Homo sapiens: one gene and its partners. The protein of the gene in region 4 purifies or fractionates together with the protein of the main gene of each other region. This does not show direct contact. Each region holds a gene or a part of one and is shown on either strand. Other genes may lie near its edges.

Region 1 (6,776 bases), on a different chromosome or scaffold from region 4:
TCTCAGTCACCCAAGCGGAACCAAGGCCCTGTGTGTGCCCCCAGGAGCAGCAGGCCAACACCAACCTGGCCAAGTATCGCAAGGCCCAGCACGAGCTGGATGATGCGGAGGAGCGGGCAGACATGGCGGAAACCCAGGCCAACAAGCTGCGGGCACGGACCCGGGACGCCCTGGGCCCCAAGGTGAGGAGTGGCAGGGGCATTGCTCTCTGTGCAGGGGGACTGTGGGGGCTGACAGGTAGTACTGCTCACTCAGCTATCCCTTTCTCCTCAGCACAAGGAGTGACGGCCTGACCCCCTGGGCTCTAAAGAGGAATGTCTGCTGTTGCACATCTGGCTGAGGCCACCTGCCCCGATCCTGCCATCTCTGCATCGCCCCCTGCTGCCTTCAGCCTTCCCTGGGCCCTGAATAAACACCACAGCCAGTTTCCTTCTCATTCTTTTCTTTGGGGTTCAGGAGGAAAAACACAGTCCTAGGGACAAAAGCCAGGTCCACAGCAGTCATTTTTAAAATAAAGTTATTTAATAGTCTCCATTTAATTGGTTTATTTGCTGTTAATAAATTGGCAACACAAGGAAGGGCCCCATGTCCAGGCTCAGGCAGGAGCGGCTGCCTCAGGCAGAGGCAGGGCAGGCACAGCTGCCCCGTGCCCCAAGGGATGGAGGGAAAGGCCCCTCACTTCTGGGAGAACCCCCTTGGATGAACACAGCGGCCAATGAGCAAACAGAACCAGAGGAGCTACAGGAAAATGAGGCAGAGGGGCAGGCTTGGGGGAAGGCAGCATTCTCTGGTACCCACCACCCCTGCCCAGGGCTCAGAAGCCTTTGCCTGGGTCCAAAGGCCAGGGACAAGGGAGGCTTGGCTCACAGATGGGGGGTGGGGGTCACCCATATCTTCCTCCCCACTCTGGGACTGACTGACAGCCAAGAAACCGGCAGGAGCTCACACAGAGCTAATGCTAAATGTCCTCTTACCTCTGGGTGGCCCTGGGCCCCAGGGTTCTGAAGGAAAGGTGGGCATGGTACCCTGTCCTCATTATGGGGACTGAGGCTCTCCATGACCTAGGGCCCTCAGACCCAGGGGGACCAAGGGCTTCTAGGACTTCCCTCCCACCAAGCCTGTACCCAAAGACCTGGGGCAGGCAGAGAGCAGCAGGGAGGAACGGGAACAGGGCAGGGCGTGTGGCATCGTACCCACGCTCACCCACACTGGCCCAGCAGCCTCCCGAGGCCTGGCCCAAGGTCACTCCTCAGTGAAGTCCCTGTCTATGTCCATGTAGGGCTCCTCAATGTAGCTAACGAGAGCAGAGGGTGACTGCCGGTCCGGGTTCAACAGGATGGACACTGTCTCCTTCCAGTATGAGAAGCTGATGCAGGAGCTCTGGGCAAAGAGGGAGGGGCTGGGGGGCGCCTGGAGGACCCAGGTCAAGCCCAGCACCGGGACACCCCTCTGAGAGGCCCTGGGTCCGCGGCCCACCCATCACCCCCTTGAGGGTGGGGCACTCACGTTCTCTAGGCAGGTGCTGTCCTTGTCCTTGTGCAGGTAGTGCTGCTGCCAGAAGCGCAGCAGGTTGTGGAAGTTGTTGAGCAGGAAGCCGGGGTACTTCTTGCTGTGCTCCATCCGCTGCAGCAGCCGCAGGTACAGGGGCAGCCGCTCTTTCCGTCGGGCCAGCATCAGGATCACCAGGCTGGTGTTGAGGCAGCTGACGTTCTCCTGCAAGGCCACAGGCCCACAGGGTCAGGGGCTGGTGGGAGCCCCAGTGGCCCCTGGTGAACCTGGGTAGCCATCAGGCAGGGAGGAGAGTGGCCCCAGGCCTCGGGCCACCCACAGAGCTCTCCCTGCACAGAGGTGAGATAGGACTGGGGGAAGGGGGCCCCCAGCAGCCCCAGTTTCCTGACTGAGCACCTTCCTCTTCCCCACGCCCACCTCCCACCCCACCTGAGGCAACAACACCTGTCCCTGTCCAGACCTGGGCTCAAGCATCACTCCTTCCGGAAGGTCCGTCCCAGGCAGGGCTGGGTGCGTGTGTTGGGGCGGTTATCCCGCTTCAGAAGTGCCATTCAGCACTAGCCTGCGCGCCTCGGTGGGGAAAGAGTTCTGCCCCACTCACCATGCACTCCCACCTGGTGCTTCACCTCAGAACGGAACCAAAGACCACCTCTGAGAGGTGCTAAGATCACCCTCACTCTAGAAAAGAGGGGCAGGAGGCTCAGAGAAGGGAAGGCTGCATGACTATTCAGTGAGGGAGTTGGGCAGCCTCAGGTCCGATTCCAAAGCCCAGCAGGGCAGAAGGTGTGAGGGACGTGGACATGGGGGAGGCGGGGAGAGCACTGGCCTGCAAGTCAGCCTGTGACCTGAGGGCACTTGCGAGCCCTCCTTCCTTAGGCCCTGTCTGTACAATGGGACACTGATTCCTCCTGAGCACAGTCCTCAGAAGAGCTGGGTCTCCAGAGACGCACTTCTGGAGTGGGGGACAGAAACCTGCTGGGCACCAGGACAAAGGAAGTGGTTTCCAATCGACCTTCCCTGCTGTGTGTCTGCCGGGGCCTCTCACCTGGGTCAGCGTCTGCACGTGGATGATGTTGATGAGGCGGAAGAGGAAGGACATCTGCGTGGGCACCTGGGATATGTAGGCGAGCAGGCGGCATTCAGACAGTACCTCGGCAACTGTGGAGGGAGGCAGGGGTGCAGCAGGTCAGGCTTAGGCCCAGTGGCTGGGTCGCCCAGGCCTTTCGTGGAGCCCCGCTTGGGTCCTGACTCTGAAGCTAGGAGCTCATCATCAAAACAGCTTCAACGAAAGCTGACTGTGGCAGAAAGAAGGACCTCCAGCTGTCCTGCTACCAGGCAAAGCCATGTTCTCAGAGTGCCCAGGAGCACCCCACCTCATCCTCCAGAACCAAGCTCAGGGCAGCTCTCCCTCAGCCCTCCCCAGACTGGCTCCAGACCCGTGCCCTCCATATCACACACAGAAGAGTTCCCTCCACAGGAAGATGGATCCATGACGCTGCATTAAGAAAAACAACGCAAAAGTTCCACTCCTTCTGCAGAGGTCCTAGCGCAACTGGTTTTCCACACCAGCTCTCAGGTGAGTCCGGCCCAGTGCTGAGACCACAAGGCACAGGTTCTGCTCCGTCCACTAGTGTCGGAGCAACTGCTTCCCGCACAACTGGGAGGCAGGGCAATAACCGAAGGTACCAAAATCTGTGTGGCTGTTCCCCTGAAACAGACCCTCTGGGGCAGAAAAAGGAAGCAAACGGCTAAATTACCAACAACCGGGATACTTCTTGCTATCAATGACAGTGACCGTGACAAGGAACAAGTGCCTGACTTTTTGGGGGTGTGGGGGGGTCACAAACCCTCAGGAGAATCTGCTGGATGCCACAAGCCCTCTCCTAGGAAAAAAAGGAAACGCGTGCGCATACACATGGAAGTGCGTTAGCAAGTCCAGGAGGGTTCAGATGCCTGCTGCACCACAGGGCACCTGCGATGCCACGCACAGCACACTGAGGACGAGGGGGCCAACTCATCGTGCCAGGCAATACCAGCCCAGAAGAGGAAGGTCTTTTTCTGGTTTTCTTTGCATCTTGCTAGCAACAATGGATTTTCACCTTATTAAAGTGTTGAACAAGGCAGCAAAGCCAATTGCCCTGGAAGCCGCCACCTTGAGGCCGGCCACGTGGGCATCTGGTGCAGCTCCCTCAGTCATTCTTGTCTCCCTGCTGGAGACAGGGTGTCTGATGCCAGCATTCTTACCCTGCATGACTTGCCTTGACAGCCTGCCTTTCATGTACCTTTCATATCCACCTGGTTTTCAAATCGGTCCAGGGACAGAGTGACACAGCGCACCAGCATGTTGGAGTCCACCAGGGAGCTGTTGATCTGCTTCAGGAATACCTGGAACTATACAGAAACCAAGCTCACAGCAGGCAGTGGGCTGCTGGCCAGGTATGGCCATGGCCCGGGGGGATAGTCACTACAAGGGGCATCAGCGACCTCTACCAGCCCCACTGCTTCAGATAGGAAGACAGAGGCTCAGATAAGCTGAGGGACCTCCCCTCACCACCCAGGTACTAAGAGGCACTCCCCGGAATTCAGCACAGATCCGACACTCTCTCCAGTGGTTTTACGCTCAAGGGTGCTGGATTCCTTTAATTTTTACTTTTAATTTTACTTCAGCTAGCCTGAGCTGGGTTTCTGTCACACACACTCGGTGAGCCTAACACACCAGGCCCAGTCCCTCCCTACAGCGGCTCCCACCGTGGCACCCACCATGCTGCGTCACGGCAGGCGCACAAGCCACCCATTCCCACCCTCACTCCCTACCCACAAGCAGCCCCGGTTTTCATCCCTGCATTCCCAGGGTCTAGCACAAAGCCAGACAGAGCAGGTTCCAATGAATGTTTGCCAAAGACTGCCCAGACTCCCCCGTCGTCTCTAACGTAAAACCTGTGCCTAAAGCCTGGCAGACCAGGACTCCAGGTGAACTTCTGGACAACCCAGCACACTCCACAGAGCCCTGGGTTAACTTTACCTTTGCATCGGTGTTGATATATTTATTGAATCTCTTGAATGCATCAACGTTGAACTTCATCAGCTCCCCCAGGAGGTCAAAGTAACTCTGGAGCACATCCCTTGACTTACACTCGCTGTCCACAATGCAGTAAAGGATGTGCTGGGTGAGGAGGGACAGGGTGAAGGTGTCAACGTGGCTGCCCCCACCAGGGCCTGGCATGGAGCTCAGACCATGCATTGGCTTTGAGCAAGCATCCTGGGGATGGAACTGGCAACACTGTCTAGATTCTTGTCTGAGGATGCTGGTGGCTCCAAGGACAGGACCAGGCCTGACAGACCTCACCAGGAGGTGGAGCAGACTGGGAATGCAGCACAATCTCTCCCCTGCCCAGGGCGTACAGCTGAAGCCTGTGACCTGCTCTGTGGTCACCAAGATGGCCGGGGTGCTCAGCTCCTAGGTGAGGGGAGCTGTCATCACCAGGTCTAAAACACAGGCCACTGCCTAAGCACTGAGGTCATTCAAGTAAATGAAGGACAGAATTTAAAAGCAAAGGACACATTTTGACCCCATGGTTTGTCTTTGTGTTTATGAACGAAATTGTTTAAATAGAGTTTACACCAAAATACTGAGTTTTCATCAAGAGAATAAAGCCAATTTACTCCTTTATAAAGTTTTCTACATTTTCTTGAAGTTACATTGATTTGGATCAATTCTTTTCCACATGGATTTTATAATTCGTGGGTCAGTTTCTTGTCCATATGAAAAAATCTGAAAGACCAATTATAACTTTGGCCATTCTGCTCTAAGTTTTACTTTTTCTGAAGACCATTATTCAATAAAGGAAAATTAACTTTTAGTACAAAATATCTTCAGGGTCAAAATGCCTTGCTGGGTAACCAAACTGTCACCCTCCTGCATGGCCTGGCCACCCTCTAAACCTGTCACCCCGTAAGCACCCATGGGGAACCCACAGTTGGAAACCCAGGGCAAAATCTAAGGCAGCCTGCACAGGCATTTGGAAGTCACGAGATCTGCTCTGCTCCTGATGAACTGTTTGGGGCTCAGGACAGGACACAGCAACGCGTGGGCTGGGGGGAGACGGAACCCAAGACACTGGCTGCTCCAGATCATACCTCCAAGAGGCCTCGCTTCAGCAGGAACATCTGGTCTGCATAGGAGGTGGTCCCTCGGAGGAAACTCTCCACAGCCCGAGCTTGCCAAAACCTGCGACCCAAATACTGGCTCAGGTGGCTAAGGCTGCCCTCTTCCGGCCCATGTTCAGTTCTCCAAGGGGTTGGGAGATGTTTGTTGCCTTTTCATGTACTCAACATTTACTGAACATCTACCAAGCATCAGGCTTCATCCTGGGCCTGGGGACACAGCAGTGCCCCCATCCTCACAGAGAGCCAGCTCAGTGGAGAAGTCTTCTATCTGGGTCTGTCTGGAAGGGGCTGTGTCACAGAAAGGGTAACATCTGGGATCGAAGGGCTGGCTCCTGCGAGCCCCCGTGAAACATACTCTAGGCCTTGCCCTTTCACAAGAATGGGAGGACGTGCAATTGAGGGGCCAGGAATGTGTGTGGGAAGCGGACGAACACATGCAGACAGGCCACTGGGCTCACAGACGATGGGCTGGCCTAGGGAAGTAGTGGTTGATGCTGACCGAGGGACCCAGAGGGCACAGCGGGTATCCACGACAGGGAGTTTGGACAAGGCACTGAAGTGACAAAGGCCCATGTGGGCATGAAGCCTCCTGACAGCTCACGCCCGGCCCTGATGGAACTCTACCTGTCCACTGACTTCAAGACTCATCTTAGATGTATCTAAGGACCTCAGAGAAGGTCTCCCTGTATTCACCCAGCCCCCAGCCCTAGCAGCGGAAGAGGCTTTCCTTTGCTGCTATAGCTCCTGGGCCAACCCTGGCTCCATTCCTTCCCACACTGCATTGAAACAGCACAGCTCTAGGGAATTCATGGCAGGGCCCGTATCCTAGTTCTCTCCCACCCATAAGGCACCAGCACAGAACAGGTGCTTGGTGAATGCTCGGTCACTGTGGGCTGCAGAAGAAGCTCTCACATACCTGTCGAGTCAAAACTACACAAGATGGCAGTCAAACCACCTCTCCCCAACAGTAATTGTGCTTCAGGAGGCATGGACGCTGGTGACTAAAGGAGGTATTCCTAACCTCCTGAGAAACACCTGGCTCTGCAGCCCCGCAGAATCGGCAGGTACTTTTCCCCAGACTCACCTGAAAGACGACTCTG
Region 2 (5,343 bases), on a different chromosome or scaffold from region 4:
GGGAAGTGTGTGGGTGTTAGAAAGGTCCTCAAGGGCAGTTGGGGGATTTATGAAGGGGAAAGGCCCGTGACTGGCTGTATGACCCTGGGAAGCCCCTGCCCTCTCTGGACCGCCTTTCCCCCACCCAGTCCTCATGAGAGTGCAGGCAGAACAGAAATAGGAGAAGGAAGGAGCCAAAATCACCATGAGACTCAGCTCCTGGAGGACAGAGCCCTCTGATTCATGTCTGCAGCCCAGCTCCTGGCTCAGGGCCTTCAGGAAGTGTTGATTTGGTGAGGGGGGTGCAAAACCTGCCAGAAGTGGGGGCATCCAGGCTTGAGCCCCACAGTGGAGAATGAGGGCAGGCGGGCCAGGGCAGATCCAAGATAATTCAGAACACAGGATCTCTTGTATGTTCTCCTAGGTTCTTAGTCAAAAGCCCCTTTTCACTGGTTCTGACCTTGCCTCAGCTGAAATCAACATGGGATGGCTCAGCTGAAACCAACATGGGGTGGCTTCAGGCCATCCCAGGCATTCAGAGGGTTCGTTTAATGACATTCACTGAGGCCCTGTCTATGTCAGGCCCTTGGTGTTGAAGACGCAATCATGAACAAAAATGAAAATACAATGTGATGGTCTCCTGAGTGTCTGAATGCGCCAGGTGGCTAAGTGCTGGGGCTCTGGGGTCAGGCTGCCTGGGTCACATCCTGGCTCCAAACTGCTTTGCTATGGCTTCGGGCAGTTACCTCATCTGTAAAATGGGACCAACATTGCCTACCTTGCCTCCTTTTGTGAGGTCACTTATTAAAAGGGCTTAGCGTGGTGCTTGACCCATTATTATTATTATTATTATTATTATTATTATTATTATTATTATTATTATTACTACTACTACTACTACTTGAGACAGGGTCTCACTTTGTCACCCAGGCTGGAGTGCAGTGGCACGACCACAGCTCACTGCAGCCTCGACTTCCCAGCCTCTTCAAGTGTTCCTCCCACCTTACCCTCCCAAGTAGCTGGGACCACAGGTGTGTGCCCCCACACCTGGCTAATTTGTTGTCGTTGTCGTTGTTGTTGTTGTTTGAGATGGAGTCTTGCTCTGTCACCCAGGCTGGAGTGCAGTGGCACGATCTCGGCTCACGGCAAACTCCGCCTCCTGGGTTCAAGTGATCTCCTGCCTCAGACTCCCGAGTAGCTGGGATTACAGGCACACACCACCACGCCTGGCTAATTTTTGTATTTTCAGTATAGACAGGGTTTCACCATTTTGGCCAGGCTGGTCTCGAACTCCTGGCCTCAGGTGATCTGCCTGCCTCGGCCTCCCAAAGTGCTGGAATTACAGGCGTGAGCCACCATGCCTGGCCAGACCCAATATTATTATCGTGATAGGGATAGGTTTATGAGGCTATAGGAGTATCAGACAGGGCCTCCTGGAGGAGGGGACATATTAGCCGAGGCCTACAGGAGGCGTAGGAAGGAGTGTTTGCCAGCTAAAAGGGAGTGGAGGCAAGGAAAGAGAGGTCCCAGAAGAATGAGTTTGGCAGGGGCTTTGGCAACACTGCCAGGAGAGCTTCTTGCAGGGGAAGGGTGTCAGCAATATCTGGAGGTCTCATCCAGTTCCTTTCTTGAGTCCCCGCCTTTACTCCCCAGGTGGGCTGGCCTCCAGAGGAAGGGCAGTTCGTGGCAGTGGGTGGCGGAGGCTCCAATTTAGCTCTCAGGGATGAAGGGGCGAGGCTGGCTGTGGACTTTAAGGGAAATCCAAAGATAGCTCAACAGAAAAGGATGACTCGCAGCCTGATCTTCCCCTCAAGAGGAGGGAAGCAAGAATGAATCAGCCTCTCAAGCTGGAATGAAGTTGCGGCGGGAAGTCAGTCCTCGGTTTGTGGCCCAAGGCCACTCTGCCTCTGACTCACCTTGCAGTGGGGCGGGATGGGTGTGAATCTGGGCTCTCCAGCCCGTATTCCTAGCTTCCGGCTGGGGGCCTGAGGGGAGGCCTGGCTCCTCTTGAAACCTCGGTTTCTACATCTGTGCAGTGGGGTAACGAGGGTCAGGAGAGTGGTTATGGTGACTTATAAACAGAGCTGGGCACACAGTAGGGCCTCTGGAAGTGCCAGCCCCCCTCCTTTGCCCCCTTCCCTTTCACATCCTCTCTTGAGCGGATGTGAAACGGGTATGTGGGTGGTTTGGGGAGGTTTGGGGCCTCTGTTAGTCTCTTGATGAGTGAGTTGTCATCTAGATTCTGGTAAGGCATGAATAGAGGGAGAAAAGCAACAAAAAATCAGAAAAAGGGCAGCCACGCATTGTGTGTGAAAATCAAAAACAATAATAAAAATGATTCTTGGCCAGGGACAGTGGCTCACGCTTGTAATCCCAGCACTTTGGGAGGCTGAGGCGGGCAGATTGCTTGAGCCCAGGAGTTCAAGACCAGCATCTGCAACATAGTGAAACCCCATCTCTACTAAAAATACAAAAATTAGCCAGGCGTGGTGGCAGGTGCCTGTAATCCCAGCTACTTGGGGACTAAGGCAGGAGAATCGCTTGAACTCTGGAGGCGGAGGTTGCAGTGAGCCGAAATCGCGCCACTGTACTCCAGCCTGGGTGACAGAGCAAGACTCCATCTCAAAAAAAAAAAAAAAAGATTCTCTCTCACATATTTGGTTCCTACTAAATGCCTCTGGGCTACTCCATGTTTTAATCTTCACAGCAGTTCCATGGGGAGGCAGTCCCATTTCACAGGTGAGGTAAACTGTTCAGAGGTGAAGCCACTTACCCAAGATCACACCACCAGTGGATGGTAGAACCAGGATTTGGACCCTGATCTGTCTGAGTTCAAAGCTGTTGCTCTTTGCCTCAGATCTGGGCAGGGGACTGTTGCTGAGGACTGCCCAGCCTACAGAGTTGGGAGGGCACTTACAGGAGAAGGCCTCTGAGACAGGTTCAGACAAGGCAACAGTCTTCCACTGGACGGTCTGCCAGTTAGGAGTGTAGATATGTTTAGAGAGAAATGGCAACTTCTGGCTTTAACATTTATTACAAAGATAAGAGCAGAGGCTGGTGAGTTACACTTCTTCCTCCCCACCAGGTGCTCTCTGCAGCTCTGGAAAAATGGTGTCCTCTTTGTTGTCCCACCAGGGGGCGCCACCTCCAGCCCCGCCCCAGCCTCATACCCAGTTCTTCAGCTCGGCCAGCGGTAACTGAAGCCTCCCAGAATCCTGGATCCGGGCCCCTAGTACCCTCTTTCCCAGGGACCCAGGAGTCCTGCCTCCAGTCGCCTGCACTTGTAACTGAGAGCTGGAGGTCGTCCATAGCAGCATAGTGAGAGTGTTTTTGATGAGGGTATGCAGAGTGGGGGTGACCATGTTCCCACCTGGGGCCTCAGGTGGGCCAAGGCCTACCCACTTTAGCCAGCGTCCCCTCCAGCAGCCATCAGCAAGCCAACCCACTCCAAGCCAGGGCCCCCTTTGGTCCTTGCACTTGAGGTGCTTTGTTCAGGGCTGGGTCAGGAGTGGCAGAGACGATGTCCACCACCTCAGTACTGGGGAAAGTAGCCTGGTTCCTCCTCGTGGGTCCTGGAGAGACAGAGAGACTGATGGAGAGGCAGGCCAGGAAGAGGGAGAGTGAGAGTGGGACACACCGAGGTGCAGACAGAAACCGGTGGGCAGAAGTGGGAGACAGGGGGCAGGTGTTTCCGGGCCCCGAGGCCAGGGGGCAGGAGGGCATTTAGACAGAGACATTGGATGGACAGCCAGACAATGTGCCCAGGACAGGCAGAGAGAGAGAGAGAGACCAAGCAAAGAGGGAGAAGGCCATCAAGGGTCAGTGAAGGGGAGAGGGTACACCATCTTCCTTCACTGCCAGTCCAGCCCCGAACTGAGTCCTTTCCTCCAGACAGTGCCAGAGCTGATGAGAAAAGGCGGCCTTGTCTCCCAGCCATCCCCCGCCCCCTTAGCCACATAGGGTGCTGGCCACAGGAACCCTTCCTCCAGGATGCCTTCCTGCCCAAGTCCCAGCCCCCTCACCAGCTACTTGGACTGCTGGCTGGGTTCTGGAAGCTGCCTCGGCCCCAGGGCAGTGCTAAGCAGCTCAGTCAGGGCATCCAGCTTCCCCGCCAGCGTGTCAATCTGTTTCTCCAGGGCCCGGTGTGAGCTGCTCAGATTCTGCTGCAGGTCATACAGGATCATGTGCATCTGGGTGGGAGGAGAGGATCAGAGGTGTCGGGGCTGGGGTCGACCCCCACCTACTCCATAGCGTAAGGCAATGGAACCAATATTGACCACATCCTTATGGTCCTCTGAGGATTACCCTCGACAATAACTGTTACCATGTATTGACCACCTACCACTTCCCAGCTACCTGCCCAGGTGTTTCCCTATATGGTTTAAAATCCTCCCAAAAGCCACAGGGAGTGGGAATCCTGTTCCTGTCTTACAGCTGAGGAAACAGGCATGGAACAGTTAAATGACATGCCCAAAGCAGCTCCTGAAATAAGACCTAGAACATAGCAGGTGCTCATTAGATATTTCTAGCATGGATGATGCCTGACTTCCAAATCCACATAGTCTTTTACTGCATTCTCTGGCTAGGATTCACTAGTTGATCCCTGAGGGTTTGTGGATTTTCTATGGAAATTCTTGAATTCTGTGTTTTTGGCTTGATAACCTTCAGAAATTACCACCTGCCAATTCCTGCAGATCTGGGCCACTGCCTCGTCACTGAGACCTGCCATGCGGTTTTGGGGCCTGCATCTGTGACCGTGCTTACCATGGCATTGCTGCCAGGGGCCACTGTTTGAACTGTCGTGGGCTAACGAGAAAAAGCAAAGGCCACCAGATAAGCAGAAGATGCTGTGAGCCAGGCCAAGGGGGTGTTGTGACATCATTGTCCCTAAGCACTGGCGAAATCAAATGGTCTCAGCAGAAGAAGGGGGCGGGTAGCTGAGTCACGCCTTGGCCAGGCAAACTTGCATGGACGTCCCTGTTGCCCTGAGTACCCCTCCACAAGAGCAGCAGAGATTGAGTTTTACGGAAACAATGTCACCTGTGTCCTTGTCAGTGTTGTTCATTTTAATTGTATTGGTTTTGCCGTCTATGGGCTTGGTTTGTAAATTTGCTTTGGTTTTATTGTATGAGCTGTAGTTGGAAGGAATTTTATATCCGTCCACATGTAAGTAACTTAACAATAAAGATAATTTGAAACCAAACACTGGGGTTCTTTGTGCAATTTTTTTTTTTTCAGTTTGTAAGGGATCTGTGCCTTTCATGAATGTAAGAAGCTCTGTGTTGCATCATTCATTCCTTCCTTCCTTCATTCAACCACAGACCTTTACTGACAGGCTGTGTGTGCCAGGCCCCTGCCAAGGTT
Region 3 (6,372 bases), on a different chromosome or scaffold from region 4:
AAAACATCCCAGAACTTCAGACCAGGTTAAGGGGGCCAATGAGAAGATCATGAAAAGTGACATCAGATGAAAGCTGAGATCTGTGAAAGTTTCAAATCAGTTTTTCCAAGTAAGTCCACAGACCATTTGATAGGCTAAGCCCAGTTCTTTACACAATGTAGCAGCCATCATGTCTGAGTACTAATTGTTCTCTTCCCACTGGTTTTTGTGAAATTTTCTGTTCTGTTACCTTTTAAAGATTCTAGCAAGTTTTTGACTGTTTCAATTGCAAACTTATTGCTTTTCTTCTTGGTAAAGGACTTTCTGTTTGGAGCAGATGGTAGCAATAGGGATACCAGCCCCCAGGGCCGATTACTTGATATGGAAGGTCGATCTGTATCTTCCTGTTGTAAAATCCAGGCACTTTCTCGGGCCAAATCTACAAATTTTTGCAGCTGGCTTTGACTTACATTTTTGCTTATGTTGAGAGAAGTTTCAAATGGATTCTGAATGTACAGAGGAGAAGAATCAGGTTTGTTTTGCTCCCTTCCCTATAGATTATTACACAGAAGAAAAAATGAGTAAGTACATGAAGGGCTTAAATATAAAAACAGTTAACTCAATAAAATGTCAAAACACATAAAACACCAGCATTAACTTTACATAGCAAAGAATTTCTTTCTCAGGGGATTGAGTATGTATGCATGGTGGGTGTGTGTACTTCTCATTTTTTGTTTTTTTTTTCCCTGTTGTAAGTTTTATGAGTGTTCTTTGGAGAAATAACTTAGGGCTTATCATCTATGGATGATGATGTCATTGCTCAGAGAAGAGGTATCTGGACTAACTCAACCGACAAAAGTATTTTTAAAATAATATAACTTTTACCTAACAAGGTAGAGCATGAAAGGGAAAAAAATGATTAAAAAATCAGAAAGTAAGATGAAGATACGTTTATTTCTGAGACTTGCTAAAAGCATACCTATTATGGTAGAAACAGGAACACACAAAATTAGAACCCTTAAATTAAATATATTAATTAATGTTTCCCAAGTATGAGATGAGGAAAAAGAGGAGGAACAAAGGATTATTCATTATTTATTTAAAACACTAAAAAGTTTCCATTATCTTCCTATAGATCCAACAAAAGGGCTCTGCCACATAAGATAGTATCTCACAGAAATAAAAAAGATAACTGTAATCCAAGCATTTTGGGAGGCCGAGGCAGGTGGAACACCTGAGGTCAGGAGTTCAAGACAGGCCTGACCAACATGGTGAAATCCCATCTCTACTAAAAATACAAAACTAGCCAGGTGTTGTGGCGCATGCCTGTAATCCCAGCTACTTAGGAGGCTGAGGCAGGAGAATCACTTGAACCCAGGAGGCGGAGGCTGCAGTGAGCCAAGATCATGCCACTGCACTCCAGCCTGGGCAATACAGTGAGACTCTGTCTCAAAAAACAAAAACAAAAAAAAAAAAAAAAAAAAAGAAGAGAAAAGAAAAAGAAAAGCTAAAGCTATGAATCATATGACTAACATAAGCCATTAGTCTATATATCTTTTCCTCTTTCAAATGATACCATAAATTTACTTAATTAACTATTACAAAGCCAATGGTCAAAATTCCCTGATGTGAGCAGCAGCTGTTATATTCCCTAACTTATTTCATGCTTGGCATCTCTGAGCTTTGGAGTACAAAAAAGGTGACGAACTTTGTATGCTTATGACTTTTTCCTTCTAGATAGCATTTGCAAAGCTTTCCGAATGAATCCTTTCTCTCTCCTCTCCCCAATCTTTTATTTTAACAAAGAGTCCATGAGCAGGTAAGAGGGAAGGATGAAAAACGGAGAGGTGAAGAAATAAGGAGAAAGTATATCTGGGTTTGTGTTTTATGAAGCCAATCTTGTAAGGTTTGTAATCAAGTAGCCAAATGCTAAACAGAATAAACCCAAACAGAGGGCTATCCCAAGTTATCTCCCACTTGCAAACAAATTTTGTCTAGACTTCTGCCTGAGTTTCTTTTTGAAAAGAAAAAATGTCTTTCATCCCAGCTGCTCAGAAATCCAAATCGTAAGTTCATTTGCTCAAAAAAAAAAAACAAAACAAAACAAAACAAAACAAAAAAACACCTAAATCCTAAGGGCTCAAATTGAGGGAATCACTGAAATCTATCTTTGGGACTTAAGTTTATTCCATAGACACAAATCCAGTTTAAAAACAGCTGTATGTAAATAATAGTTTTCAGGAAACTTTCTGGAATGTATTCCACATCATGAGGGATACAGTATTACACTAAGTGAGGACAGAAGTCCCATGGCATAATAACAAGGCAGATGCTAAAGAGCTGGCTTTTACTATTTGGCATAAAGGGATGACTGATCTTAGTCAAGTCATGTAACTTCTCTGGACATCAACCTCCTTGTTACTACAAATTACTACACAAAAGAAATAAATAACATTTATTAGAGTGTTTTGAAAACAGTTAATTAAATATTAGTACAGTGGAAGACCAGATACTAATAACTAAATAGTAAAACATTATTTACCTGTCGAATATTTATGGAATTTTTATCGAAAGCAAAATTGCCAAAATACTCAAAAAATTCCTTCAGTAGTAATTCTGTAAGAAAATAAAACAAGGACAATCAGAGGAAAGCCTGTTTCAATCCAGAAAGGATCAAGTAAACAGAAAGACACTTACCTAATGTTTCTGTGTTCTGTGAAGGTTTAATTCTACTCAAGTCACGAACAAATGTGCAGTTGTTGCCTTCTATTACACATTTATCTTCTGCATCTTAAACACAAACAAAAAATATTTCACGTGTTTTTTTTTTTTCTTTGCCTGAGATGGAGTCTCACTCTGTCATCCAGGCTGGAGTGTAGCGGCATGATCTCAGCTCAATGCAGCCTCCACCTCCCAGGTTCCAGCAATTCTCCTGCCTCAGCCTCCCGGGTAGCTGGGATTATAGGCACATGCCCCCACGCTCAGCTCATTTTTGTATTTTTAATAGGGATGGGGTTTTACCATGTTGGCCAGGCTGGTCTCGAACTCCTGACCTCAGGTGATCCACCCACCTCATCCTCCCAAAGTGAGGGGATTACAGGCGTGAGCCACCGCACCCAGCCTATTTCACATATTTCAAAGATATTCCCTACCTCAGAATACAAATCTATGATTTAAATAAATTTAAGGCCAGGCGCGGTGGCTCACACCTGTAATCCCAGAACTTTGGAAGGCTGAGGCGGGTAGATCACCTGAGGTCAGGAGTTCGAGACCAGCCTGGCCAATATGGTGAAACCCCATCTCTACTAAAAATACAAAAATTAGCCAGGCATGGTGGCTTGCTCCTGTAATCCTAGCTACTGAAGAGGCTGAGGCACGAGAATCGCTTGAACCCAGGAGGCGGAGGTTGCAATGAGCTGAGATCACATCACTGTTGCCTGGGCAAGAGAGCAAGACTCCATCTCAAAAAACAAAACAAAACAAAACAAAACAAATTTAAGTAAATTTCTACTCTATTCTTTATTTAAATCACAGATTTTATAAATGATTGAATAATTATGACTGAATGATTAAATAACGATTTAATCTATAATTTCTTGTCTATGATTTAATGATGTTAATTTCACTATGGCATAACTAATCTCAAATCTTTTTATCTTCTTTTAATGGAGTTATATTTTAAAAAAAGATTTGAGACTAGTTATGCCACAGTGAAATTAACATTACATTTAATTTAGCATACTAGAATTATTGTCTTTCAACAACCCAATGATTCCTAATCAATTTTTGAGGTAATCAGTTTTCTAACAGTAGATGGAAATGTAGGGAGTTCCCCCATCTTTCACCAAACCAAATTTCAGCACTACCTCTAGTCAATACTTAATTTACATCTCCAATTCCATTCTTATCATCTTCATACACGACACAAACTGAATGCTAACTAAAAAAGCTTCAGGTAATTTCTAAAATGTAGCACTCTAGACTAACTGGAATTCAGTAATTCAGCAAAACAAACTCAATAACAGCACGTTAGACTCAGATATTCACCTTTCCTACTAGTATTTATATCTTAAGAGGTAATCATTTTCATAAATATACAACCACCATGAAATCCCTGGCCCACACTATCTGCAACAGATACTATGCTGTTTTCAAGAGCAAATTCCCACTCTTCAGAAATCTCATCAATGGCTACTTCCTATCTGAAAGCATTTCATAATTCCAAACTGGTTTTCCATCCTTTTTGTTCCATTCACCATTTGACTTATCTGACTGCATTGTGACTGTTTGTATGCTGTCCACTCCTCTGCCCCAGTCAGGAATTACAAAGGCCACTGTCCTATTCATTATTGCCCAACTCCCCACCACCGACCTGCCCCCAATGAGCATCTAGCATATAGCAGGTATATAATCAATAATCTGGATGACTGCTGATATTTTAATTTTTTTTTTGAGATGGAATCTGGCTCTGTCACCCAGGCTGAAGTGCAGTGGCGGCGTGACCTTGGCTCACTGCAACTTCCGCGTCCCGGCTTCAAGTGATTCTCCTGCCCCAGCCTCCTGAGTAGCCGGAACTACAGGCGAACACCACCACACCCGGCTAATTTTTATATTTTTAGTTAGAGACAGGGTTTCACTATATTGGCCAGGCTGGTCTCAAACTCCTGACCTTAAGTGATCCACTCGCCTCGGCCTCCCAAAATGCTAGGATTACAGGCGTGAGCCACCGTGCCCGGCCCTGATATTTGACTTTAAATGCCTATAATCACCAGAGAGATAAATAAGCCTCCTATAAATTTATCTCCCATTTTTTGTGTTTTTTGTCATTTTTTTGTCAAGACCTGGTTACCTGCATAATTTCTCAAAAATTATTCTAGGTTTTAACATTTTAATAGCACATTTTACGTGCTCTACTATACAATTTATAATATGTTGAAGGAGCTATATAAAATGTATGTATGTATATATATTTCTACTTAGATCTATTTTTAAGGAACCTGAGCACATGTTTTACTATTTCAAGTAATTAACAGTGTATGTTTTTTTGTGATGCAGTGTCAGTCACATATATTGATGCTCTTTTAGCTGCTGTGTCTTTTTTCAGGAATGAATCTTCAATTAAAGCACTAAGCACAGAAGTAAATGTAACAAAAGTAGCAAAGCCAGAAAGCATGGAAAACACAAGAAAATGAGACATATGAGAGAACACAGTGGAGATTATAAGAAAACACAAATAAACAGGGCAATTCAAGAGGAACCAAATATGAAAGTTAATATCATGGTCCATCTTGCCCAGTACAAACAGCCCTCAACTTTAAAATGTTATCCAATCATTTTGAAATCTACATAGTGAACTCCTACTATGAACCCAATACTATTCCGAGAACAGAAGACGCAGAGGTGAAGCAGACAGCTAGCCCTAGAAAAGCTTGACAATGCTGAGGCAGGCACATAAAAGAACTACAACAATCTAACAGTTGTTACAATACAGGTGTGTACCAAGAGCTTGGAAACCAACAAAGCACTACCCACTGGGAAGCAGAGAGGACAGCAAGAAAAGACCTAACAGATGAGATCCTGTACTAGGTTTGTCTGTCTTCTCTGGCTTAATCTTGAGATTCTCCATAAAAAAAAGCGGGGTGGCTGGGAGGGGGAGGCTGGGAGAAGGCCATTTCAGGCAAAAGCATGGAGCAATGAAAAAAAGCACAAAACATCAGGGATCATCAAGGAGTTCAAGAGTGGCTAAAGCTCCCAACTGGTATACAGGAATCAACGTAAAAGAAGAGGATAAAAAGGAAGGTGATAAAGGGCCCTGCATACAATGTGAAAAAGTTTGGTCTTTAGCTTAGCTTAGGTTCTAAATAGTAGTTTACAAAATCCTAGAAGTTCTGGAAGGTATTCTAGGAATTCATGTTGCCTTCTATTAATAAACAAGCAAGGAAGCAAATAAAATATTTTTTCTTTTAAAAAAGAACAAATTGATTATTTGTATATCAAATGAGAGGTACAGCTTAGAAGAAATGAAATGATTGTACACAAGATTCAGGTCACTTACATGATTAAACACCAAGTACTCAATATGGTTTTGATTGTTTCACAGTTTAAAATTGTTTTCTTCCTTAGGTTTAATGTCCACCAAAGTTGAACTACTGGTCAAAATTAGAAAGTATAAAAACCATGGATTTTGGAGGGAAAAAAAAGGAAAAGGAAAATATTGATAAATTCTCCTCAAAATGATCTTCACCAAATTCTTAATATACATTAATCTAAGACAAGTTCTTTTACAGCAACTTCAAAAACCATAGGTGATGGAAGGCAAAAAGTGTATTTTGCTTGGCATTTATTGGCAATTCGCACCTACAATGTGCTATATGCCGAGAAGCAATTGCAAAA
Region 4 (3,949 bases):
GCGTAGTTAATGCCACTGAACTATGCGCTTAAAAATGGTTGAGATGGCTGGGCACGGTGGCTCATGCCTGTCATTCCAGCACTCTGGGAGGCCGAGGCAGGTGGATCACCTGAGGTCAGGAGTTTGAGACCAGCCTGGCCAATATGGTGAAACCCCGTCTCTACTAAAAATACAAAAATTAGCTGGGTGTGGTGGCGGGCACCTGTAATCCCAGCTACTTGAGAGGCTGAGGTGGGAGAATCGCTTGAACCTGGGAAGTGGAGGTTGCAGTGAGCCAAGACTGTGCCACTGCACCCCAGCCTGGGCAACAGAGTGAAACTCTGTCTCAAAAAAAAAAAAAAGGTTGAGATGGTTAATTTCATGTTATGTGTGTGTTTTACCACAATTAAAAAACAATGCCCACTGGCCAGATGCGGTGGTGGCTCACACCTGTAATCCCAGCACTTTGGGAGGCTGAGGCGGGCAGATCACGAGGTCAGGAGATCGAGACCATACTGGCCAACAAGGTTGAAACTCCATCTCTACTAAAATACAAAAAAATTATCCTGTCATGGTGACATGCCCCTGTAGTCCCAGCTACTCAGGAGGCTGAGGCAGGGGAATCGCTTGAACCCAGGAGGCGGAGGTTGCGGTGAGCCAAGATCATGCCATTGCACTCCAGCCTGGGCAACAAGAGCGAAACTCTGTCTCAAAATAAATAAATAAATAAACCAAAAAAAAAAAAAACAAAAACAAACAAAAAAAAACAATGCTCTCCTGCACACCTACCTCCTGGGGAGAATGGCAGGGCCAGCACCCTTGACAGGAACGTGCCCCGGCTCCATGCCTCTGGATGTGGTGCGGCAGCACATGCAGTTCCCCAGGGGGACGTGAAAGGAGGCTGTGTGAGGATGCCAGATGGCAGAGCTGAGGCCCAGGTACTATGACGAGGCAGGAGGAGGGGGCCCCACAGCTCATCCTGCCCCACGCACCTCACTCAGCCCTGGACGGGGCCAGGCAGCAGCAGGCGCTACTCCTCCTACCCATCTGCATCGCCCTCGCCTTCTCTCTCACCACGGTGGTCAGCAGCCACTGGTGTGAGGGGACCCGGTGGGTGGTGAAGCTGCTGTGCCAGGACCTGCCAGGAGGGCAGCACTGCGTTCACTTCAAATGGGACAAAAGCAGCGATGGCAGGATGGACGACAACCAGGCTGTGCTGTACATTTGGGAGCATTTTCCTGTAGTTAATATTAGTGTGTCTGCATACTGAAAGTTAGGATTTAAGCTATGTTGATTGAAATTTTCTTCCCACTTAAACTATTGTCTTCTTAAAGACAGGGAACATGTTAACATTTCAGTCAGACATAGTTAAAAAGACTAATCTAAACAAGAACAAGACACTTTCCAGCATCACTACGGTATGATACAGTTTCTTAACTTCCCTGAGCCTTCGTTTATTGTTTTTTACCTGTATGCAGAGAAATATAATGTATGCTCTGCTTTCCAGATATAGATATTATAATGATAAAATAAAATAATACATATAAAAGAACTTTGCTACCTATAAGATACCATGAAAGAAAGATGTTTGTTTATTACTACGCTTTCAATAGCAGTTTCTAACAAGATGAAAAGGAGAGTGGGGAGAGAGAAGGGAAGAGGGAGAGAGAGGTAGAGGGAAGGGGGAGAAGCAACAACTTACTGCCTTATTTTTATAAATGTAGAGAGCATCATAATTCTGTAAACCACTGTTCTAAGCCAGTCTCCTCAATGGGGTAAAAGAGGATGATCAGGGAATTGAAAATGTGGGAGGTTTTGGTTATCATAGTATCTGGAAAGTGTTATTGCATTTATGGGATTGGGTAGCTGCTATGCTAAACTTTCTGTAGCCTGCTGGATACTAACACACACACAAATTACCCCACCCAAATGTTATTGGCAAATAGCTAAGCCTAGCAAACATTTTTTGAAAAACTTTTCTTTTCCTATTTGAATTAAATAAGTTGAATCACACACCAGTACATGTATTTTCAAATTCAGGATGAAGAAAAACCCCCAGCATTTATGATATACCAAATATAGTCCTACTGGTATGCTTATATGATAAAGTATTTTATAAAATGTAATGTAACCTATCAAATTATTTATTTATATATATATATATATATATATAAAATGTAAAGGCTTTTATAAACATTTAACATAAATGTGTTATGGTGCTGGCAAAGTGTGGTGGCTCATACCTGTAATCCCAGCTCTTTGGAAGGCTGAGGTGGGAGGATAGCTTGAGGCCAGGAGTTCGAGACTAGCCTGGGCAACAAAGCAAGACCCCATTTCAATTTTAAAAATATGAATTTATTATGGTGCTATGTAGGTCTAACATTATAAGATGAATTATCTCTATTCCGTCTTAATATTTGAGATAGTGTAGGAATATTTTCATATCAATGTATTAGAAAGTTCTGGTGAGAATATACTTTACTAGAAGTGCAGCATTGTGTTTAAAAAGAGAAAAACAAGTAAGATTTCTCATATTGTGCCCCAGGCAACTGTAAAATTTTCTGTAAAATTAAGAAACAAGACTATTTCCGCTCAGTATTATTTAAGGTAACTTTCAATCACAGAGGGATGAATCCAGTTGTCTTCATACTAGAAAGATCTCTGCAATTAAAAATTAACCCCACTCCCAAAATCATTGTTGAAATCAAAATATTGATTACATACCATAGACTCGAGTCATTCGCCTTCCTCTGCATTTGAACAGTGCAAGACGTCTTCTAAATAACCTTGTGGGGAGGATGTTCAGCTTTTGCGACTCCACAGAACAAAACTATCTCTCATGGTTCTTATTGCAGTTTACGTGAGTCTTTCCCACGCTGTAAGCAAGTAAAGTATCCAAATGCACCATTTTATCAAGCGCTCCATGGTCCAGAGGCAGGATATTTTGAAAGTTTGTGGCTAAAGTTGTGGCTCTCTAGTTCCATCCTAATCTAATTTTGATAATAGGACCTTACAGTTTCTAGTACTTGTAGAAAAAAAACCTAAATTAATTCATTTTCTTCTTGGATTCCAGTAATTGTTTGGGATTTGTCTTCTACCAGTTGCTTTTGAGAAAGATATTGATTTCTGGATTTCTTTAACTAATCATTGCTTTCAAGAAAAGCACTGCTCATGTCCATGCAGTTCACACCTATTTTTACAGTGATTCAGTCTGGAAAGTGAAGAGGCAGAATATAAATGTTAAAGAAATATTACTAATGGTAGATATGGTAATATCATCAGTTCAGGAGCAACTTTGCTTAGTTTGTCCTTTATGTGCTCTACAGGTTCAATTTAATTGAAAGGGGGAAAGGAGTAAGAATCAAAGTTTTGAATTTACACACATGGTTTATTCTTTTAATATATGACATTTTGATTAAAATACTTTCATTTCTGTCAAATCCAACATTACTTAGAGCCAAGTTTAGTTTTTTGGAAAACTTGCAAAATCAATCTTCTTCCTTCCTTTTTTATGTGCAAATCATGGGAAGATAAAATTCAAATAAAATGTTTCTAGACATAGTGACTTGATAATTTCTTTCTGTTTGGTAAATTGATCTTTCATGTTTCCCCACAGGATATAAAATTTCCAGAAAAATATATAAGATGGTATGAAGCTATGAAGCTGATTAAATATGGTATGTAGCAAATAAATTTAATTAATTCAAAATAATATTCATTTCACCATATCCAAGGCTGGGCCTACATGGTAAGTGCTTGCTACATTTATTCTCCAAATTCTTTCTTGCAATGCATTTGCCTTATTTACTCCTTTCCTTCCCATATCCACAAAACATAGTTTCTCTGTGGATAGCACATTCATGGCCTGATAAACAGCTTTCTAATACAATATATAACCTCTCTGTAAACATTTTCTTAAGCCCATGACCACTCTATAACATTGTAAGTTCTCCAGCTGATAAATGGGAAG
Region 5 (6,372 bases), on a different chromosome or scaffold from region 4:
TTAACGAAAACAGGCCAGGTGCAGTGGCTCACGCCTGTAATCCCAGCACTTTGGGAGGCCAAGGTGGGCAGATCACGTGAGGTCAGGAGTTTGAGATCAGCCTGGCCCAACATGGTGAAACCCTGTCTTTACTAAAAATACAAAAATTAGTCAAGCATGGTGGCACGCGCCTGTAATCCCAGCTACCCGGGAGGCTGAGGCAAGAGAATCACTTGAACCCAGGAGGTGGAGGTTGCAGTGAGGTGGAGGTTGCACTACACTCCAGCCTGGGTGACAGAGCGAGACTCCGTCTCAAACAACAACAAAAACGCTACTTATCCAGGCATTACGCCCTAAACGTGGGAAACTAAGTAAAGTAACGGTAACATCAAGGCTGACTGACAAAGATGCACAGATGACCACATGACACTAATCTGCTGGGATCTAGACTTCTCTGAGAACGCAGTTTCTTAAACAAATGCAGCATTTTCCAATAGTTTCGACTAAAGAGAATGCAGTAGGAAACAACTGTTTACAGAGGCAAAAATAAGTAAATGTATATTAAATGTATGTATTATGTATCAACAGACAAACATGTCACAGGGAAGTTCAGACACCTATTCTAACGTGTCCACCCTGAAGTACTTCTTCCATCCAGAAACACCACTTTTTTCAGTTTAATTCACCTGCAATAGAGACTCAAGTAACTGAATCTACTTCCACCCCAAGATTACACACAGCAGGTAATTCAGTATCAATGTTCAACAGAAACTTGCCCTAAAGGAGACAGGTAGAAGAGCCGTCCAGCCCCAGCCCTTTCTCTGGAGAAAGTCGGTCACCCAAGCTCAGTGAGTGAAGAGTTTGTTTCAGTACTTGGCTCCCACCTTGGGTTTTTCCTTTTTGTCTCTGTTCTCTGACTTGGGAGTTTTGTGGGACAGGAGAGTCTGAATTTCTTTCCAGTCTTGGTCTAGCTTCTCCGTGAGCTCGAGGGCATCTTCTCGTTGAGCTTGTCTCTCCCTCTGGGGAAAAAATAACAGACACACACCACATACCGTTACTACTGGACTTCAACCCAGAGGCCCAATGTCAGTGCCAAGGACACACACAGTGATCACTCAGTTGGCACCAAACGTTTCAACACAGAAAAGAGGCCAGGAGAAATGAGTATTTTAAATGCAAAGCTACCAAATCTCATCAGACGGAAATCTTTTCCTGCCATAAACCATTAATTTAGATGCTCTGAGCAGTTCACTGCAAATGAATAAAAAAGTGATTTTTTGGGCACATGTCAGATACTAAAACCAGCAACAACAAAAAACCCATCCGCGCCAGGTGCAGTGGCCCACCCTGTGCTTTAGAACTAGGCCAAGGTGGGAGAACTGCTTGAGCCTGGTCGACACAGCACGATCCCCATCTCTACAAAAAGTAATTAGCTGAGCATGGTGGCGCCCACTAGCTACTTGGGGAGCTGAGGTGGGAGGATCACTGGATCCTTGAGCCCAGGAGTTTGAGGCCACAGTGAGCTTTGATCGTGCCACTGTACTCCAGCCCGGGAAACAGAGACTACGTCTCAAAATAAAACAAAACATAAACCAAAAAAAGGCAAAAGAACCAAAACCTGTCCGAGGTATATGCTTTATGTGATTTTTAAAATTCCTACTCACAATAAATGCTTTTACTGAACTCATATAAAATATTAAACACAGCCTAAAAAGGTACAGGAAAAAAAAGCTCAAACACATTTTGGTGAGCCTGTCTTACCGTGGAGAAGATGATCAAGAACACTCACTAACCCACCTTCTCTTGTTTTGACTTGGCAATGAGCTCTTCAATCAGCTCTTTCCGGGACTTCGGTTTCTCCCGCTCCTCGCCTTCCTGTTGAGTCTTCTTGTGAAGGAGCCCACCGCCTCCTCCAAAGTGGGCAGCAGTCAGCTCAGCTGGGGGCAAAAGGCAGAAAACCCCACAGTGAAGCCCAGCCCTGGCGTGGGAAGTGTTTCCTGTAGCACTCTGCCAGTGCTTCCCCCATAGTGGTCTGGAAAAGTCCACATTTGAGAAAAAAATGCTCACACGCAACAGCCTGGCCTGAGACCACAGGCACAATGGCACTTGAGAAATACCCAAGGTAAGCCACTCTGAGAAAACCCAGACCCATTACACTCCCAACTGGCCGTAACCCAAGTGGCTGGAAACACCCAGCACCTATTTTTGATTGTGCTGGTTCTAGCGAAGACTGGCAAACCCAGAGCAAGCTGACTCCAGGGTCTTGGTGGGAGCGTCGCCCAGGATCAGTGGTGCAATCTGTGTCCCTCCCACCTCCCTGGGCAGGGCCTGGAGACTCTAGTCACCTGTACCACGGCGCCCCCTCTAGTCACCTGCACGCCACGGCGCCCCCTCTAGTCACCTCCACGCCACGGCGCCCCCTCTAGTCACCTGCACGCCACGGCGCTCCCTCTAGTCACCTGCGCCACGGCGCCCCCTCTAGTCACCTGCGCCACAGCGCCCCCTCTAGTCACCTGCACCCCACGGCGCCCCCTCTAGTCACCTGCACGCCACGGCGCCCCCTCTAGTCACCTGGACCACGGCGCCCCCTCTAGTCACCTGCACGCCACAGCGCCCCCTCTAGTCACCTGCACCACGGCGCCCTCTAGTCACCTGCACCACAGCGCCCCCTCTAGTCACCTGCACGCCACGGCGCCCCCTCTAGTCACCTGCACGCCACGGCGCCCCCTCTAGTCACCTGGACCACGGCGCCCCCTCTAGTCACCTGCACGCCACGGCGCCCCCTCTAGTCACCTGCACCACGGCGCCCTCTAGTCACCTGCACCACAGCGCCCCCTCTAGTCACCTGCACGCCACGGCGCCCCCTCTAGTCACCTGCACCACAGCGCCCCCTCTAGTCACCTGCACGCCACGGCGCCCCCTCTAGTCACCTGCACGCCACGGCGCCCCCTCTAGTCACCTGCGCCACAGCGCCTCCTGGCAATGAGGGGAAGGCCACTCGCCCAACTCACACCAAGGCAGTTACCTCCAGTCTCGGGGAATTAGGATCTCCCCAGGGAATGCGTTTTATAGCTAAGGGTCCACGAGAAGTCTTGAACAATGAAAAGAGCAAAGACAAAGGCACAGAGGGGTTAAAATAACTGGCCATTCTCTTCACGCCCGTGAAGCCGAGCAGTGGCGGGGCCTCCTGGTGTGCCGCAGATGGCGGGTTCTGCACCACATGCTTGCTGCCCTAATTCCTAAGCCTTTTACCCCCTGGATTAGCCAAATATCAGAAGGCAGCCCCAGGCTTTAACGCCTTAACTTTCACACACTGACAAGACAAAGCTTTGAGAGTCAGTTTTAGATTTGTACACCTTTGTTCTGAAGATGCTGGAAATGGGACCTACTTTAACTTACAAGAAATGTCAAGTAATTGATGTCATGACTGCAACCTTATAAATAGGGTTCAAGACAGTCAGACCCGAACTGAATCTTAAACTCTGTTAACATTATTTAAGGCCAAAATTTATCTGTTTCATGTTGTTATCTACAGATATGAGGCTCAATATGATTTTCCTCAAACTGCTATAATTCCACAGTAGGTAAAAGCTAAAGGAACTACATCAATGCCACTGGTACAAATATTAGGCTGGAATTGATAAAGTAGGGGGAGCAAAGTAGTGCATTCAGTGAGGCACCTGGAGTCAGTGAGGTGGGTTCTCCCCACAGCTCTGACTCTGGCATCGGGCAAAACACCTTATTTCTCTGAGCTCATGGGTAGAACGAGCTATTTTGAGGTTCAAATAAAATAATGGATATCAACATGCTTTCTTGGCCCATAAAAGCATCTATCTACACACCATCTTAAAGTTCTGAAAACTTAAAAAAAAAACAAAAATACATAAAAACTGTCACTTGTGAAATTTGTAGAGAGGTTAATGATCAGTAAAACTTTCATGCAATAACTTTCTCTAGTCTCTAAGAAGAGCAGAAGGTCTAACAATGAACAGACTCTCCCTGACTCCACGCCCACAGGCCCGTGCACAGCACCCCAGCCTCACCAGACAACGTTCCTCGATCCTCAGCATCGCTGTCACTGTCCACAATGTCATTATGCTTCTCGATGTCTGCCAAAGACTGGCCATAATGAGTCAATTCTTCATCTTCATTTAGATTGTAGATGCTTTTTTTCTCATGATGTCGCTGACAGAAGAGAAAAAAAGTTTCCTAAAATTACCACTTCCATTTCACAGCAAAAAAAAAAAGATAAGGTAGATATATATATTTCCATTATATTTGAAATATGACAACGAATCCTAAGCAGCCTTAAAGAGTATTTTGGGTCAACTAAGCAATGATTCATGATTCAGACAGAAATGAAACTCATGGAGGGTAATTCTTTTTTTTCCTTCAGACAGAGTCTCGCTCTGTTGCCCAGGCTGGAGTGCGGTAGAGTGATCTGGGCTCACTGCAACCTCTGACTCCCTGGTTCAAGTGATTCTCCTGCCTCAGCCTCCTGAGTAGCTGGGATTATAGGCATGCGCCACCACGCCTGGCTAATTTTTGTATTTTTAGTAGAGACGGGGTTTCATCACGTTGGCCAGGATGGTCTCGATCTCCTGACCTCATGATCCACCCACCTCAGCCTCCCAAAGTGCTGGGATTACAGGCATGAGCCACCGCGCCCGGCCTCATGGAGGGGAATTCTTAAATAAGCCCAGGGGCCAGTTTCCACTCCAGCAATGCTGCTCAGCTGAGAACTCCTGTGCACACTGCTGCCGTGTAGTAGAGTTAAGGCATTTATCCATTCAGCTAACATTTGCAGAAGAGGTTGCTTCTCCTTTGGCCTAGCCAGATAAGGCACAGGATTCGAGGGCTATCCCCTGGACCTTCCGAGTGCCCAGGAACATGCAAAACATGCAGAGTCAGCCTTCTCCTTGGCCTTGACTTCCCTGTGAAATGTACAGCAAAAACCCTCCTCCAGTTTCTTTCCATACCTGCTGTTCCAGAGCAAACCTCTTCATCATCTTCTCCTCGGGGCTCATGTTGCTGTTGTATTCTCCGAAGCGTTTATCTCTGAATACATTGGATTTATCCCTTTCTTTGTACTCTTTTAGTAAAGTCTGTGTACGCTGGAAAACAGGTCAGAAACAATCTCACAAAAAATTCTTGTGATTTCCACTACAGGGGACATCAGAACAGTGCATACTTTAAAGTTCAGGGCTATGCACAGTGATGTCAAAGTTCACACCCAATCTGCTTTCATGCACGATAGGCTTTCTCTACTAATCACAGAATTTTGAGAAGAGCAAAACAACTTTCAAGGATAATGGGGCAATCACTTTCTTTTCTTCTTTAGAGTCTACCGGTGCCAAAAGGAAGGGTAAAAAAGAACACACTAGTCAAGCTCAAGGCATGAATGGCTCCCTCGGCTGTAACAGCTGCCTTAAGGTTTAAAACGTGCACATTTGGAAAAGTGGAAATGGGTTTAGACTCCTTCCGTCATGGAGGAGGGTACTATTTCCCATCAAAGGTACTCCTAAGAAATGTGTAGTTGTGAGTTCATACTAGACACAAGGCAATAAACAAGTTAGCGAGGTCACAGTTTAGGGGCTTCACCTTTATAACACCAAGAGGAGCAATATTTTAAATACGGTTAGCAAGTATCAAATAATTTGGTTATTTTCCCAGCAGCAACAAAAAAAGACCAAGTTTAACAGTATTCAAAGTTGGCTGTCCTGGAGGTTGAATTCCCTAAAGAAAGCTGTGAGAGGACAGAGATGGGTGAGGAACGAGTGGCCTCTGCAACCTGAGATGGCCACATTGCAAACTCTTTCTTGCTGCGGAACTTCTTCTATTTGCTAAGGAACTGCCATTACACTGGTGTTTACACAGCAATTCCGAAAGGAAATGGCATCAAGGCAAAATCTTGATGCCATGGAAGGCCCTTGGAATGATCCAATTCAGTGGTTTTACAAACCCACCACAAATCGGTGCCTCGGCAGACATTTGAAACCTCTCATCTAACCCGACTTAAGTGTTCCTTGCCTTCCTCAGGGATTCCTCTAATTTGTGAAGTCACTTTGAAAGAATGCGTGCGTGTGGCAGGAGGGAGCGTGTGGTGACTTGGTCACTGCCACTCTGGTTCCAAGTTCTGTTTCAGGAGGGGACAGGTCAGATTTTGCTCCAGACATAGGTCACTTCCCCAGGGTCGGAGATGAACTTAAAGGCTAAGAAACCCAGATTTAAGGTCAAAACCAGGAGCTGGAAGAGGAGGAAAAGAGAGTGGAAGGGGTTAAGAAGCAGCTGGGCAAGAGCAGAAGATGCTCCAGCAGGGACAGAAGCACGACCTGGCCCTCCTTTCCATTTAGAGCACATTCCATCTGGAGAGGTCAACCGAAATATTAATCA

What was found.
Region 1: the proteins of DCAF8L2 (region 4) and TRPC4AP purify together in Homo sapiens (affinity purification with mass spectrometry; one large-scale study listed by BioGRID and IntAct). This does not show direct contact.
Region 2: the proteins of DCAF8L2 (region 4) and KCNN4 purify together in Homo sapiens (affinity purification with mass spectrometry; one large-scale study listed by BioGRID and IntAct). This does not show direct contact.
Region 3: the proteins of DCAF8L2 (region 4) and MTPAP purify together in Homo sapiens (affinity purification with mass spectrometry; one large-scale study listed by BioGRID and IntAct). This does not show direct contact.
Region 5: the proteins of DCAF8L2 (region 4) and NOP14 purify together in Homo sapiens (affinity purification with mass spectrometry, with the first as the bait; one large-scale study listed by BioGRID). This does not show direct contact.

What each region holds. Positions count from the first base shown.
Region 1 is NC_000020.11:35,001,904-35,008,679, forward strand, and holds the end of TRPC4AP (short transient receptor potential channel 4-associated protein), read right to left. Parts: coding exon 6,761-6,776; intron 5,965-6,760; coding exon of another isoform or gene 5,925-5,964; exon of another isoform or gene 5,745-5,924; intron 5,738-5,744; coding exon 5,647-5,737; intron 4,673-5,646; coding exon 4,532-4,672; intron 3,901-4,531; coding exon 3,792-3,900; intron 2,668-3,791; coding exon 2,555-2,667; intron 2,462-2,554; coding exon of another isoform or gene 2,237-2,461; exon of another isoform or gene 2,188-2,236; coding exon of another isoform or gene 2,137-2,187; exon of another isoform or gene 1,970-2,136; intron 1,714-1,969; coding exon 1,507-1,713; intron 1,381-1,506; coding exon 1,243-1,380; 3' UTR 501-1,242; downstream 1-500. Other genes in the region: MYH7B (myosin-7B), read left to right, coding at 45-182, 256-285. UniProt on the Homo sapiens protein: Substrate-recognition component of a DCX (DDB1-CUL4-X-box) E3 ubiquitin-protein ligase complex required for cell cycle control.
Region 2 is NC_000019.10:43,763,539-43,768,881, forward strand, and holds the end of KCNN4 (intermediate conductance calcium-activated potassium channel protein 4), read right to left. Parts: intron 4,170-5,343; coding exon 4,005-4,169; 3' UTR 4,002-4,004; intron 3,552-4,001; 3' UTR 2,995-3,551; downstream 1-2,994. UniProt on the Homo sapiens protein: Intermediate conductance calcium-activated potassium channel that mediates the voltage-independent transmembrane transfer of potassium across the cell membrane through a constitutive interaction with calmodulin which binds the intracellular calcium allowing its opening.
Region 3 is NC_000010.11:30,313,442-30,319,813, forward strand, and holds part of MTPAP (poly(A) RNA polymerase, mitochondrial precursor), read right to left. Parts: intron 2,770-6,372; coding exon 2,677-2,769; intron 2,596-2,676; coding exon 2,522-2,595; intron 531-2,521; coding exon 168-530; 3' UTR 1-167. UniProt on the Homo sapiens protein: Polymerase that creates the 3' poly(A) tail of mitochondrial transcripts. Can use all four nucleotides, but has higher activity with ATP and UTP (in vitro). Plays a role in replication-dependent histone mRNA degradation.
Region 4 is NC_000023.11:27,589,195-27,593,143, reverse strand, and holds the start of DCAF8L2 (DDB1- and CUL4-associated factor 8-like protein 2), read right to left. Parts: upstream 2,801-3,949; 5' UTR 2,704-2,800; intron 1-2,703.
Region 5 is NC_000004.12:2,952,648-2,959,019, forward strand, and holds part of NOP14 (nucleolar protein 14), read right to left. Parts: intron 5,094-6,372; coding exon 4,959-5,093; intron 4,165-4,958; coding exon 4,023-4,164; intron 1,917-4,022; coding exon 1,777-1,916; intron 999-1,776; coding exon 864-998; intron 1-863. UniProt on the Homo sapiens protein: Involved in nucleolar processing of pre-18S ribosomal RNA. Has a role in the nuclear export of 40S pre-ribosomal subunit to the cytoplasm.